2 separate regions of the Homo sapiens genome follow, and region 2 is linked to region 1. The links come from fine-mapping of genetic effects on plasma protein levels. A gene starts in region 1. The other region holds a variant in brackets. All regions are shown on one strand. Distances are from middle to middle.

Region 1 (8,514 bases):
GAGGCGAGGCCTAGAACCAGGCAGGCTGTCTTTGCCATTTTTTTCCTTTCTGAATGTCCTAACTAGGGTATAGATTATCCCTACCCTCTGCATGGGCCTTGCACTTAATTTGCTTGCAATTAATTAAGGGATATTTTGTATTCCGTCAATAAAGGGAATCATTATTTTTTTAAAGGAACCCAGCTTTTAAAACCCCTTTTTGCTGATACATAACTTAATTTGTTCCTGCTACTGTAACAAAACACCAGAGACTGGGTCATTTATAGACAACAGGAGTTTATTTCTCACAGTTCTGGACGTGGGGAAGTCCAAGATCAACGTGCCAACAGGTTCAGTGTCTGGGGAGAGCCTGGTCTCTGCTCACAAGACAGCACCTTGAGCACTGTGCCCTCACTGGTAGGAGGGGTGAACAGCCCCCTGGCACTTCTACAAGGGCACTAAGCCCATCCCTCATGACCCACTAACCTCCTCAAGGCCCCACCTCTTACTGCTATCACGTTGGTGATGAACTTTCAGTCATCAAGGGGGATGCATTGAGGCCACTGTATATATCCCATGAAGTAGCTTACTCTTGTGTTCGGCTTGATTCTATTTACAAAGTGAACACACCCATGTGTCTGCAAATCAAATCAAGATGTAGTCACCGTTTTCATCACTCCCCAGAATTCCTTTGTCTTTTCTGAGACAATACCCCCAAAAATAACCACTGTTCTGATTCCTATTATTATAGGTTGGTTTGGCACATTCTTGAATTTCATAAAAATTGAATCATACTATATGTGCCCTTTTGTCTATGTTTTTCATGTTTTCAAGATTCATTGTTATTGAACATATCAGTTTCTTCCTTTTTATTACTGTATTATTAGTATTCTATTATTCTATGAAGATACAATACTTTATGAGTTCACCTGTTGATGGAATTTGGGTTGTTTCCAGTTGCGAAGTATTTGAACTGTTTTGAAGAAAGAATTCTTGTAAAAATCATTTTTTTTTTTTGAGACAGGGTCTTGCTCTGTCCACCCAGGCTAGAGTGCAGTGGTGGTGAACATGACTCATTACAGCCTTGACCTCCCAGCCTCAAGCGATCCTCCCACTTCAGCTTCCTAAGTAGCTGGGACTGGAGGTGGAGACTATCATGCTAGACTCCTGGGCTCAAGCAATCCTCCACCTTGGCCTCCTAAAGTGCTGGGGTTACAGGTGGGAGTCACCATGTCTGGCTGTAAAAGTCTTTTAAGGGACTTATGTTTTCACTTGCCTTGGGCAAACCTAAAAGTGGGATTGCTGAGAAATGGGCAAACAATTAATCAGAGTGGTTGCGCCATTTGCACTCTCATCGCCTTGTATAGTGGTTCCAGGGGCTCCACATTTTTACCCTTGCCATGTCGGTCTGCAGTTTCAGCCGTGCTTGGATGACGGTGGTGGCATCTCATTGTGAGTTTACTTTGGGTAACACTGAGCACTATTTCCTGTTCTTGTTGGCTATCAGTACATCTTTGGTGAAGTATTTACGTCTTTTGTTTATTTTTAAATAGACTTGTTATTGTTATTTACAGGCTTGTTATTGTTATATTGTTTTGTCCCTTTTGAAATAGACTTGTCTTGTTATTGTTCATTTGCAGGAGTTCTCTATTTACCAGGACTATGGTTTGAACGCGTTTTCCCCAAAGTTTATGTGTTGGAAACTTGACCCCCAATGCAGCAGTGTTGGAAGGTGCCTACTAGGTGGTGTCTGGGTCATGGGGGTATGACCCTCATGGATGGATAAATGCCATGACTGAGGCGGTGGGCTCCTTATAAAAGAATGAGTTTGGGTGAAACCTCGTCTCTACTAAAAATACAAAAATTAGCTGGGTGTGGTGGCACATACCTGTAATCCCAGCTACTCGGGAGGCTGAGGCAGAATAGCTTGAACCAGGGAGTCGGAGGTTGCAGTGAGCAGAGATCGCACCACTGCACTCCAGCCTGATGACAGAGCAAGACTCCGTCTCAAAAAAAAAAAAAAAAAAGATAAGTTTGGCCCATTTTGCATCCTCCCTCCCCACCTCCGCCTCCCACCTTCCGTCATGGGATGATGCAGCCCGAAGGTTCTTGCCAGATGTGGCTCCTTGATCTTGAACTTCCCAGCCTCCAGAACTGTGAGAAATAAATTTCTTTTCATTGTAAATCACCCATTCCCAGGTATTCTGTTACAGCAGCACAACGTGGATTAAGACAAGCCATTTGTGGGATATATGCATTGCCCCTGTGTTCTCCCAGTCTGTGGCTTGCCTTTTCATTTTCTTAATGATGTCATGAGATGAGTAGAAATATTAAATTTTGATAAGCCATTTAATCATTTTTAAATGGTCGGTCCATTTTCTGTCTTACCTGAAGATCCGTAAGATCTTTTCTTATATTTTATCCTAGCAACTTTATAATTTTTACACTTAAGTCTATGATCCATCTGAAATTCCTAAATTCTATTTTAATCCTAATAGTTTATTTGTAGATAATTTTGTTTTTTAACATATATAATCATATTGACTGTAAATAATCAGTTTTTCCTCCCTCAATCCTTACACTTTTTGTTTTTATGACCTACAACACTTGTTAGATGCTGCAGGACAATGCTGAATAGACTACGGAGAGTCAAAGATTTTCATACACCCTTATCAGTACAAGTAGATAAAAAGTACAAGTAGATAAAAAGTACAAGTAGATAAAAAAATCAGTAACAAATATGACCTAATTGACATCTGTAGAACTTTATGTCAGTGAAAGCATGTTCTCAGCAAGTGCTCATAGAACATTTACCAAAATAGACAATGTTGGGCCATGAAGCAAGTGTTTGAAAATCTTAAACGACAAAAATAAAACAGCTGATGTTTTAAGGCCCGGTGGAATTAAACTTTAGTTACAATAAAAAGAAAACCAGAAAGTCCCCATATATTTGAAAGGTGAACCTAACTTTTCTAAATATCCCATGGGTCAAAGAGGGAATCACAATGGAAAATCCCAACTCTTCCATATCCGGGCTTACGAAAATAGGGATGTATCTGTGAGGAACGCCTGAATAAAGCAGACAGACAGGATCTATTGGAGCTCCAAATCAGGGGATTTTCTGCCCAACCTGCCTGGAAGGCATTGCTCTGTGGCCCTACTCAGTGGTGTCCCTGGCGGCCCTGAGTTTAGGGGCTCAATTTCATCCATTGAGAAAATGAGTTGTTTATTCCATACACAGGACTATTTCCTCTTATCTCTACCTTTTTAGAAAACACTACAAGTATCAGGATTTTCTCATCGTATTTAGGTAAACAAGAACTAATTTAGTTGACCTTCTTACTTCTGTTGATCAAGACCATTGATCTGACCATTGATCTGTGCAGAAGATCTCTGAATAAGGTACCCAGAGAACCCTAGGAATAGAAACCTGAAATAAGTTTTCTAATCTTAAGGTCGCTGAGAGCAAATACCTTTTTCAATTGATTCATAAAAACAACTCAGTCTGATTTCATAAAATTAGCAAGTGTGAATAATAAACATTGAAAAAATATCACCTTACCTACGATTATTTTTTCCAGCCATTGTAGTCTTTCTATGTTGGCTATGATTTTTACATAGTCCAAAATTTTCAGGGAAATAACTTATTCCAGAGCACACAAGCCTTAAGGGCAGTTAATGTTTAGATTAATTTCGTGATACTTAGCATCCCAAATAGCTGTTTGTATTTCTTCTATAAAACAAGTGAAAGGGGCTAGAAATCTCTAAGAAGTCTGACAGTTCTAAAACACTGACTTAAAATTACTTCTATGATTCGGAGATTTGGGTAGGAGAAGGCATAGAAATAAATCTAGCATCTGCGAACACACTTGTTAAATGTGCTGACCAGGTAAAAGATAACATCCTTTAGTTATTTTGGTTAAAAATGTCTTTGTTTCTCGTTTTTTTTTTTCTTTAATAGTAATTATAACGATAATCTGTTTCCTTTTTAAAAGTATAAGACAAATAAATGCTCAAAGTAAACAATTCCAATAACTCAGAAGGGGCCATTCCCTGGAAAGGTCCCGGGAAAAACGAGCGCTTCCTGGCAAGAAGCAAGCTTCAAAAACTGCCTCGGAAACGTGGCTGAAGTCATCGCATTTCCAAACGCCCAAGCCTTGGCTGGTCCAGGGCAGCTGGCGCGGAAGACCCGGAACGCCCTGTGGGCAGGGCCAGCTGCGGACGGAGGGACGGGGGCTCAAGGGCGGGTCGGGTGGGGTCCCGACGCCCCCTCCTCGGCTGGGCGCACCCCGGGTGTCCGCAGGGAGGGGCGATGTTCTGGGGGGGGGAGCGTCTGCCCGACGCCCCCTCCCTCAGGTGAGCTCAGCCCGTGGGGGTCCGCAGAAAGGGCGGTGCTCTGGGAGAGGGTTAGGGTCTGCCCGGCGCACCCTCCCCAAGGGGCGCAGCTCTGAGCCGGGAGCAGGCTCTGCGGGGAGGATCCAGATGTTGGGGGCGGGGAGGGCACTCGGTCTGCCCAGCGACCCCTCCCGAAGTGAGCGCGGCCCGGGGTCCGCGGGGCAGGAGATGATCCGGGGGCGGGAGCCTCTGCCGCGCGCCCCCTCCCACGCGTGCGCAGCCTGGGCCGGGCGTTGGGCAGCGGGAGGGGGCGCGGGCGGCCACGTGGCCTCGAAGGAATGCGCGGGCGCGAGGGCAGGGCGCTGCCGAGAAACCGGCAGGCTCTGCGGCCAATGGGCGCCCGGAACGGTCTGGGCCCGCCAATGACAGCATGGTGGGTGGAGCAGGCCGTCCGGGCGGGAGGGGCTGGGCGCATCCCTGTAGCCGGCGGGCGCGCGATCCGGGACGGACGGGGTCGCGGGGGACGCGGGGGACGCGGGGGACGGCGGGGAACGGCGGGGGACGGCGGGGAACAGCGGGGGACGGCGGGGAACAGCGGGGGACGGCGGGGAACAGCAGGGGACTGCGGGTCGCGTCCTGGCCGCCGAGGTGAGTGCGGGCCCCGCGGACCGTGGGTCCCCTCGCGGGCTTCTGGTTTCCTTTGAGAGTTGCACTTCTGCCCGGCTCCCCCGAAATCGCTGGGTCCCACCCGGAGGTGGCTGCGCCCCCGACCCCCTGCGCAGATGTTTCAGGGAAGGGGCTGAGACCCCCTCCCCCCGAGCAGCTCCCCCTTCCGCGGCGCCCCCGGCCCCTCAGGATAACGGCGCGGGCCTGGGCGGGGGGAGCAGGGACTGGCAGCAGGGACCCCTGGCCCCAGGGGCAGGAGCGAACTCCGATCGGCGGAAGGAGCCCGAGGGGCGAGCTGGCTTCGCCTGGGGGGTCGTGCAGTAACTTAGATTTTCCGGTAAAGGAGAAGAATGCGGTCCGCCTCAGGATGCAGAGAAGGACCGGTGTAAGGAAAGCCGGCGTCTTTCCCCCGCACCCTACCTGTCCCCCTACCCCACCAGTTCCCCGCACCCCGTGTACCCCGCCTGTCCCTCAGCACCCCCTGTTCACTCTGCACTCCACCAGTTCCCCGCACCCCAGCTGTCCCCCCGCACCCCACCTGTTTACCCTGCACCCCAGCTGTCCCCCGCGCCGCAGCTGTCCCCCCCACACCCCACCTATTCCCCCGCACCCCGCCTGTCCCCCCGCACCCTACCTGTTTATTCTGCACCCCACCTGTCCCCTCGCACCCCACCTGTTCCCCCTGCACCCCACCTGTCTTCCCCACACCCCACCTGTTTACTCTGCACCCCAGCTGTCCCCCCACACCCCACCAGTTCCCCGCACCCCGTGTACCCCGCCTGTCCCTCAGCACCCCATGTTAACTCTGCACTCCACCAGTTCCCCGCACCCCACCTGTCCCCTCGCACCCCACCTGTCCTCCCCACACCCCACCTGTTTACTCTGCACCCCAGCTGTCCCCCCACACCCCACCTGTTCACCCGCACTCCACCTGTCCCCCCGCACTCCACCTGTCCCCCCGCACCCCACCTGTCCCCCCTGCACCTCACCTGTCCCCCCGCACCCCACCTGTCCCCCCGCACCCCACCTGTCCCCCCGCACTCCACCTGTCCCCCCGCACCCCACCTGTCCCCCCGCACCCCACCTGTCCCCCCGCACCCCACCTGTCCCCCGCACCCCACCTGTTCACCTGCACCCCACCTGTCCCCCCGCACCCCACCTGTCTCCCCGTACCCCACCTGTTCCCCCGCACCCCACCTGTCCTCGCACCCCACCTCTCTCCCTGAACCCCACCTGTCCCCTGCACCTCAACTGTCCTGCACCCCACCTGTCCCCCTGATCCCCACCTGTCCTCTGCACCTCACCTGTCCCCCTACACCTCACCTGTTTACCCTGCACCCCAGCTGTCCCTCGCACCCCAGCTGTCCCCCCCGTACTCCACCTGTTCCCCTGCACCCCACAGCCCGCTGGTGCCCAAGAAGCCAAGGTAGATTCTGAGGAAACTGCCCTAGGTCCACAGACGCCCTGCCCACCTGTCCCAGCCCCACTCCCCTTCCATGGGCCCCTGGGCACTGAAGGTGAGGTCTGAGTACCCCTCCCGACTGTGGCCAGTAGGTCATGTTCCCAGGCAGCAGTAGACGAACTTGCTGTTGTCTGATATTGATTCCAGTCACTAACTTTGGCTGCAAGTAAAAATTCTCATTGACTCAAGATGTAACGGGTTTTAATTCTTTTCTCTGGTTAACCATAACCTGAGTACGGACTGGTCAGTATTCTAGATTCTGTGCAGGAGTGACTTAATGTCCATATGGGTGGAATGCTGCAAGGAGGAACAATTTCACTGTTGCTGATTAATAATATGTTTTGAACACCTGCTTTATAGAAAATAATTTTTATTCGAAAAGAGAGATGATTACTGAGGTTTACACGTCATGTATTTTTAAAAACACACTTTGTCCCTGTCTGTCTCTCACAGCATTTATTTGCTGGCTTTAGCAGCCAACATCGGCAGTTACGGATGCATAACTCTTTATAGACAGATGAGACCTCCAGGATTTCTCAGCAGTAAGAAAAGTCATTTGTATAAGGTGCTATTTGTAATTCATTAGTTGTAGACAGTTGGGGGTGAAGTGAAGTTAAAAGTTATTCAGAATAGCTTTTTATGTTTTTAAAAGTTGATGCTTGACTTCCAGATGTAACCACATTTGTCTTCTGGGTGCTTTGGTGTGCTGCCTTTCCTCTGCAGTTTGTGTGTGCATACGTGTGCGTGTGTCTTTGTGTATGTGTTTGTGTTTGTATGCATGTGTGTGCGTTTGTGTGTGCGTGTGTTTGTGTGTGTGCTGTGTGTGTGTGCGCTTTGTGTGTGTGTGTGTGCGCGTGTGTGAGTTGTAGATAGAGGCGTTGGGTGGTGTGGAGGGTGTGGAGTTACAGACCTGGGTTGAGGTGGGGAAGCTTTTCCCTGGCCCTGTGAGTCCAGACTTCTCACGGGACTTGAGGGTGCTCACTTACGAAGTTGCTAGAAGGCGTTGTATGGGGAAGTGCTGCTTAAAACAAAGATGTTTGGCATAAATTAGAGCAAACTGGAAATGCGCTAATGACGGTTGTATTCTGTAAGCGATGTGAAAACGTCATAGTGAGATGTAAGAAAGCGCTGTTGTAGGCCCGTCATTGTTTACTGCACAGTGTGTGGCAGGAAGCATGCAAAGAACAGCTCGGATCTGGAGATGCTCAGAGAATCTGTGTTTCATGCGTGCGTTGCTTATAGTTTGCCTGGGTAGAAAGGTAAGTGGCGTGAAATAAGACAGAAGGGAAGCGTAGCTGTTAGTCATTCATGAGGGAGAACTTCAGCTCTCTCCCTTAACCAGGCTTTCTGGGAGTGTAATTTTGGAAGGTTCTGGGAGCTCTGCAGTGGAAAGGGGTGGGCCAGGCCCAGGGGCTGCCAAGGGTCTGAGAGGCAGGGAGAGCAGAGGCCGGTGACCAGCAGGGGTCCTTGCCTGGGTGGCAGACAGGGCCACAGCCCCAGGTCCGTCTAGGGAGGGGCAGGGTTACCTGTAAGGACAGGTGTGGCAAAGGGGCCCAGGGAGAATGCCCTGCCACCAGCCCCCACGCTGATACACACACACTTCTGCCACATCTGCCACCCTACTCTGCTTCAGCCTGTTCATAGTTGTCAGGTTTGGACATTGGTTTTGGTTCTGTTTGTTTGTTTTCTGTGAGTAGTTTTCCAAATTTTGATAAAAAAGTGATCTTTTTTTTTGAAATGGAGTATCACTCTGTTGCCCAGGCTGGAGTGCAGTGGAGAGATTCGGCTTGCTGCAGTCTTTGCTTCCCAGGTTCAAGCAATTCTCCTGCCTCTGCCTCCCAAGTAGCTGGGATTATAAGCACCCACCACCGTGCCCGGCTAATTTTTGTATTTTTAGTAGACGGGTTTTGCCATGTTGGCCAGGCTGGTCTTGAACTCCCGACCTCAAGTGATCCACCTGCCTCAGCCTCCCAAAGCGCTGGGATTACAGGCGTGAGCCACTGCATGCCCCGTCAAAATGATCATTTTAAATCGTGGATTTTTCCTTTCCTTCCATCATTGCCATTTCCTGC
Region 2 (5,143 bases), 38 kb after region 1:
TTGTTTGCCCGGTGTTTCTTTGGCCATAGCACCTGCCTCTTGGTTGTTTGCACGGTGTTTCTTTGTGCATAGTACCCGCCTCTCTGCTTGCACGGTGTTTCTTTGTGCGCAGCACGCGCCTCTCTGCTTACACGGTGTTTCTTTGTGCACAGCACCAGCCTCTCGGTTGTTTGCCCGGTGTTTCTTTGGCCATAGCACCTGCCTCTCGGTTGTTTGCCCGGTGTTTCTTTGGCCATAGCACCTGCCTCTTGGTTGTTTGCATGGTGTTTCTTTGTGTGCAGCACGCGCCTCTCTGCTTACACGGTGTTTCTTTGTGCATAGCACCAGCCTCTCGGTTGTTTGCCCGGTGTTTCTTTGGCCATAGCACCTGCCTCTCGGTTGTTTGCACGGTGTTTCTTTGTGCGCAGCACCCGCCTCTCTGCTTACATGGTGTTTCTTTGTGCATAGCACCAGCCTCTCGGTTGTTTGCACAGTGTTTCTTTGGCCATAGCATCAGCCTCTCGGTTGTTTGCATGGCGTTTCTTTGTGCACAGCACCCGCCTCTCAGCTTGCATGGTGTTTCTTTGTGTGTAGCACCAGACTCTTGGTGAGGGGAGCAGCTGCCCTCCTCCGGCAGCTTCTCCCTGACTTAGCTCATGGGATGAGCCTCCTGTAGTGACCAGGCTGCATCCGTCTCACCTGTGCCCAGAGGTGATGCTGGGTTCCCCATGTGTGAGTGCTCCCTCCGAGGCCACCTGATGACCTGGGAACGTCTAGGGGTCCTGGCATGGGATGATGGTGGGAGCTCATACCTGCTTCCCACTTGCGCTCCAGGAGGGCATGCCTGCCATGCCCTTGGTGATGTGTCTGCTGACAAGTCCTTTCTGCATCCCCAGGAGGTGAGGATGGAGCTGGAGCAGAAACCACCCCAGTGGCAGAGCCTACTAAGCTGGTGCTCCCGATGAAAGTCAACCCATATTCTGTCATCGACATCACGCCATTCCAGGAGGACCAGCCGCCCACCCCCGTGCCCAGCGCTGAGGAGGAGAATGTGGGTCTCCATGTGCCCTGCGGGTACTTGGTGCCTGTACCCTGCGGCTATGCGGTGCCCTCCAACCTGCCCCTCCTGCTGCCCGCCTACTCCAGCCCGGTCATCATCTGCGCCACGTCCCTGGACGAAGAAGGTACTGCTACCCTCCTCTCCACGCCCCCGAAGTGGCCTGTGGTTCCCTCCTCTCCACGCCCCCGAAGTGGCCTGTGGTTCCCTCCTCTGCATGCCCCGGATGTGGCCTGTGGTTCCGTAGAGTCCGGGCCTGACCTTCCCCCCTCCTCCTCCTCTCCATGCCCCCGATGTGGCCTGTGGTTCCGTAGAGTCCGGGCCTAACCTTCCCCCCTCCTCCTCCTCTCCATGCCCCCGATGTGGCCTGTGGTTCCGTAGAGTCTGGGCCTGACCTTCCCTCCTCCTCCTCTCCATGCCCCTGATGTGGCCTGTGGTTCCGTAGAGTCCGGGCCTGACCTTCCCCCTGCCCCCACCCAGGTCATTAGATGTTTGTTTACAGAGTTGGAAAATGAGCCCCTAGTTCATCTTCAGTGACAGGAACACCACTGAGGGAAGGCCAGGGTGTATGGTTTGGAAATTTTTGAAACAACGTCTGGTGCCGAATGTGTTGCCCCCTCATGTCTGGGGTGCCTTGAACTTCACCCCGATCTCTGATTCCCCCACCAGCTGCTCACGGGAGTGTGTGCAGTTTTTGGCCTGTATGACTTACTGTGCTAGATGACAGTTACCGTTATGTATGTCCCGTGTCACCTGCTTGTCTATAGACTCAGACTCCCTGGGGTCAAAGCGTGTGTCTCGCTGTCTTCATTCCAGAGGATGGAGGGGTGGTGGGGGTGGGAGAATTGCCTCAGGGGCTCCCTGTTTCCCACTCATGCTTTTCCTCGCCGGGAAGATGCCGCAGGATCTCAGCAGAGTCCTCAGTGGAAGGTCAGAGCCACCTGGGGCAGCACAAAGGGCTCAGAGTCGGCCACTGAGGACGGTGTTCCCTGTAGCCAGGACATGCTCCGAGCGAGGACTGTGGGTGCCCTCGTGGGTGCCTCGCTCACCTCCGGTCTCTGTGTCCTCAGCGCTGACAGCTCCATTTCGAGTCTGCTTCCTCCTCCACTTAGTGAGAAGGAGTGGCCATGTGCTCTAGAAGGGGCTTGGTTGGTGGAGCCCGTTCTCTGCTGTCCTTACATGGCCCTGCCATGTGTAGTCACGCACCAGCTGTGTCTGCAGAGCCACAGGGTTCTGCTGGAAGGACAGCGTGCAGTCCGTGGCTGCTTCGACTGCAGCCCAAGGGCTGGGGCCTCCTGCCGGCCCTGCTGTAGGGCCAGGCGCCAGGGTGAGGGTAAGCACATACCCTGCCTCTGTCTTCAGGAGCGACCCAGTCGAGGCGTCTCAGCCGAAGTTTTCCTTTTTTGCCCAGATCTGTTTCTATGCTGTCTTTCCCAGGAACGCGCTGCAGGATTCCCAGGGTTCATGGGATGTTCCTCTAATGGAAGCCCACAGCCTCTACGCCTGAGACATGATTCTTATTCCTGTAAAGGTTTCAGTGGAAGCAGCCTTCCCTTTCCAGTTAATAACAGTTGAGAAAAAAAAATCCTTAAAGAAAAATCTCAATTTTGGATTTTGGGAAACACAGAGGTTTCAGAATAGACGGCCTCCTGTGCGTTTTCCTGTTGAAGTCGGCCAGAGTCCTCGGAACTCACCACGGTCTGCATGATCCACGCTGCTGTTGTCACTCTGTGACCGCGGAGCATGAGAACCCCCTGGAAATGAGGGCGTGCAGAGTGTAGGATTCTTGGCTGAAGGAAAATACGTTTGTTTTAAAGTGATTTTCTTATTTTAAAATATTATTTGATTATTTAAAATAATTGCATATCATTTAATTTATTTTTAAAATAACTTAGCATGAATTTAAAACAATTTGCTTATTTTTGTTCTGTCAACCTAGAGCCAGTAATAAAGCCTTGTTCTAATAAAGACTATTTTAAGTCCCGGAGTAGAGGAGCAGGTGGTTCTCCGGTTGCGTTTTGATCATTGAATGAGGGATGTGAACGCAGACCTCCTTCCTGGGAGGTGGAAAAGCGTGGATTTGGTGTTAGGCCCGGTCCCCAGCCTGGCCCACACTTCCTGCCTGGTGGCACTGCTGGCTTTTCTGTTCCTTGCTCTGGAGCCTCCCTGGGGCGGGGCGGCCGCCTGGCTCTGCAGGGCTTCCCCGGGACGTACAGCCCAGCCAGGATCCCCAGGCCTGCGGTGGGAGGTTGCAGAGCCCTGCCTGGAGCTCCCAGCTGGCCAAACTGGGATGACCAGATTCCGTTATTTTTCCTGCCTACCGAAACCAGCTCTCAAAGACGTCCACAGGCAGGTCCTGCTCTTGTTTACGCACGGGCTGTTGTGGCCAGAAGCCTCTGGGTGCGCTGCTGCTCGGAGCTGTTTAGGCGACTCCCTGGCCAGCGTGTCTGCCTCCTTCTGACCTTGACAGACTCAGTTTGCACCTTAATTTCCCGGAAGGCGGAGGAAAGAAGAGTTTCCTGGGGTGGAGCCCTGAGAGGGCTCATGTGTGTGCTCTGGGGATGGGAGTCTGTGCTCCTGGACACCCCCGTGGGGGAGACATTTCTCACCGTGCAGCGAGATTGCTGCTGGGCAGCACGTCCTGCCTTTGTCCCTCTGCAAAACACAAGTAAAAGCTTTGTGGCTCTTTGGGTGTTTCTTTTCCTTTTTTTCTTCTTCTTTTTTTTTTTTTTTTTTTTTGAGACAGAGTCTCGCTCTGTCGCTCAGGCTGGAGTACAGTGGCGGGATCTCGGCTCACTGCAAGCTCCGCCTCCCGGGTTCACACCGTTCTCCTGCCTCAGCCTCCCAAGTAGCTGGGACTACAGGCGCCCGCCACCACGCCCGGCTAATTTTTTGTATTTTTTTTTTAGTAGAGACAGGGTTTCACCATGTTGACCAGGATGGACTTGATCTCCTGACCTCGTGATCCGCCCGCCTCAGCCTCCGAAAGTGCTGGGATTACAGGCATGAGCCACCGCGGCCAGCTGGATCTTTGGGTGTTTCTTTGAGGCAGTGTGGCAGTGTGGGAAGGGCAGTTTTTGGAGCAGGCAGATTGGATTTCAGATCCTGGCCCTGTGTCTGCCCTGACACCTGCCACTCAGGAAGGTGGCCCGGAACACTGAACCAGCAGATGCATGTGGGATTTGCAGCGCTACCCGCAGATCCACCCCCCCAGCCCCTCGGGCATCTCGTGTCTGTTGCTAGTCAGCATCCAGCTGTGTGGCAGCTCCTGGTGTGACCAGGGACCTGTTTTCAGGGATGAGACCTCCAAGCAGGTTACATCGAGCTCAGCTGTCTCCGACTTTGAGCCAACTGCTGCGGTTTGAAAACGGTTGAGAACTGTTGCTCATTCCAAAGATAAATTCCCTTTAGAAAGTGTTTCATGGACAGCTGCCAGTGTGGCGATGAGCAGCAGCCGCTGAGTGCTGCTGGCTCTCCTTCCCCACATCATTCTTGGTGCCACGCGGCTGGGCGGTGGCAGATTCGTCAAGGGACCACGTGGCCCGCACCCACGCAGTACAGCCATCACAGACTCTGGCTGGCTTCTGCCCAGGAGCCCTCCGAGGTGGGAGGGTCTGCTTCTTCTGCACTGGCGTCTCAGGCTGTCCTTGGATGGTCTAAGTTCGTACCCCACCTGTGTGGAATGTTTGGGAAACCTGC[A/G]CTGCGGCTTTGCTCACGGCTCACCGTTCACCCTGGAGAGCCACAGACAGGCAGGGAGGAATCGTCAGGCGGGTCGGACTGCGCGTGTATTTGCGTGTGGAGGGATGTGAGCGTGTGCCAGTGAAAGCTGGTGTCACATGTCACAAGCGTAACCACTCCTCTCTTGAACATCTTTTGAGCGTGCCAGGCGGATGCCCCTTCAGGCCAGTCACAGCCGTGGCTCCTGTGGACACATGGAGTGGGAGAGAACATCCCGTTTCTTTCTAACTCTAGCCTGATGCATCTGGGTGCCGGTCACAGCCGTGGCTCCCATGCACATGTGGAGTGGGAGAGAACATCCCGTTTCTTTCTAACTCTAGCCTGATGCATTTGGGTGCTGGTGCAGTTTATTTCTGGCTGTTTCACAAG

Alleles and levels. Positions count from the first base shown, and alleles are read on the strand shown. Strength reflects both the effect of a copy and how common the allele is.
For the plasma level of the protein whose gene starts at base 4,775 in region 1, allele A in region 2 goes with a lower level than allele G (strong association).

Evidence for each region. PIP is the chance, under the fine-mapping model, that this variant and not a neighbour inherited with it causes the effect. The UK Biobank Pharma Proteomics Project read protein levels with antibody pairs (Olink). The fine-mapping took linkage between variants from a reference panel, not from the people measured, so its PIPs are less certain.
Region 2: its variant is fine-mapped to the plasma level of the ARHGEF10 protein (UK Biobank, PIP above 0.99).

What each region holds. Positions count from the first base shown.
Region 1 is chr8:1,819,152-1,827,665 of GRCh38, forward strand. It overlaps ARHGEF10 (Rho guanine nucleotide exchange factor 10), which reads left to right and starts at 4,775. Exons shown (of 29, transcript NM_014629.4): 1 at 4,775-4,962.
Region 2 is chr8:1,859,022-1,864,164 of GRCh38, forward strand. ARHGEF10 (Rho guanine nucleotide exchange factor 10) reads left to right here. Exons shown (of 29, transcript NM_014629.4): 4 at 876-1,163. Among named protein-coding and RNA genes, the nearest start is that of ARHGEF10, 38 kb to the left of the region's middle. The variant A/G (reference allele first, on the strand shown) is at 4,736.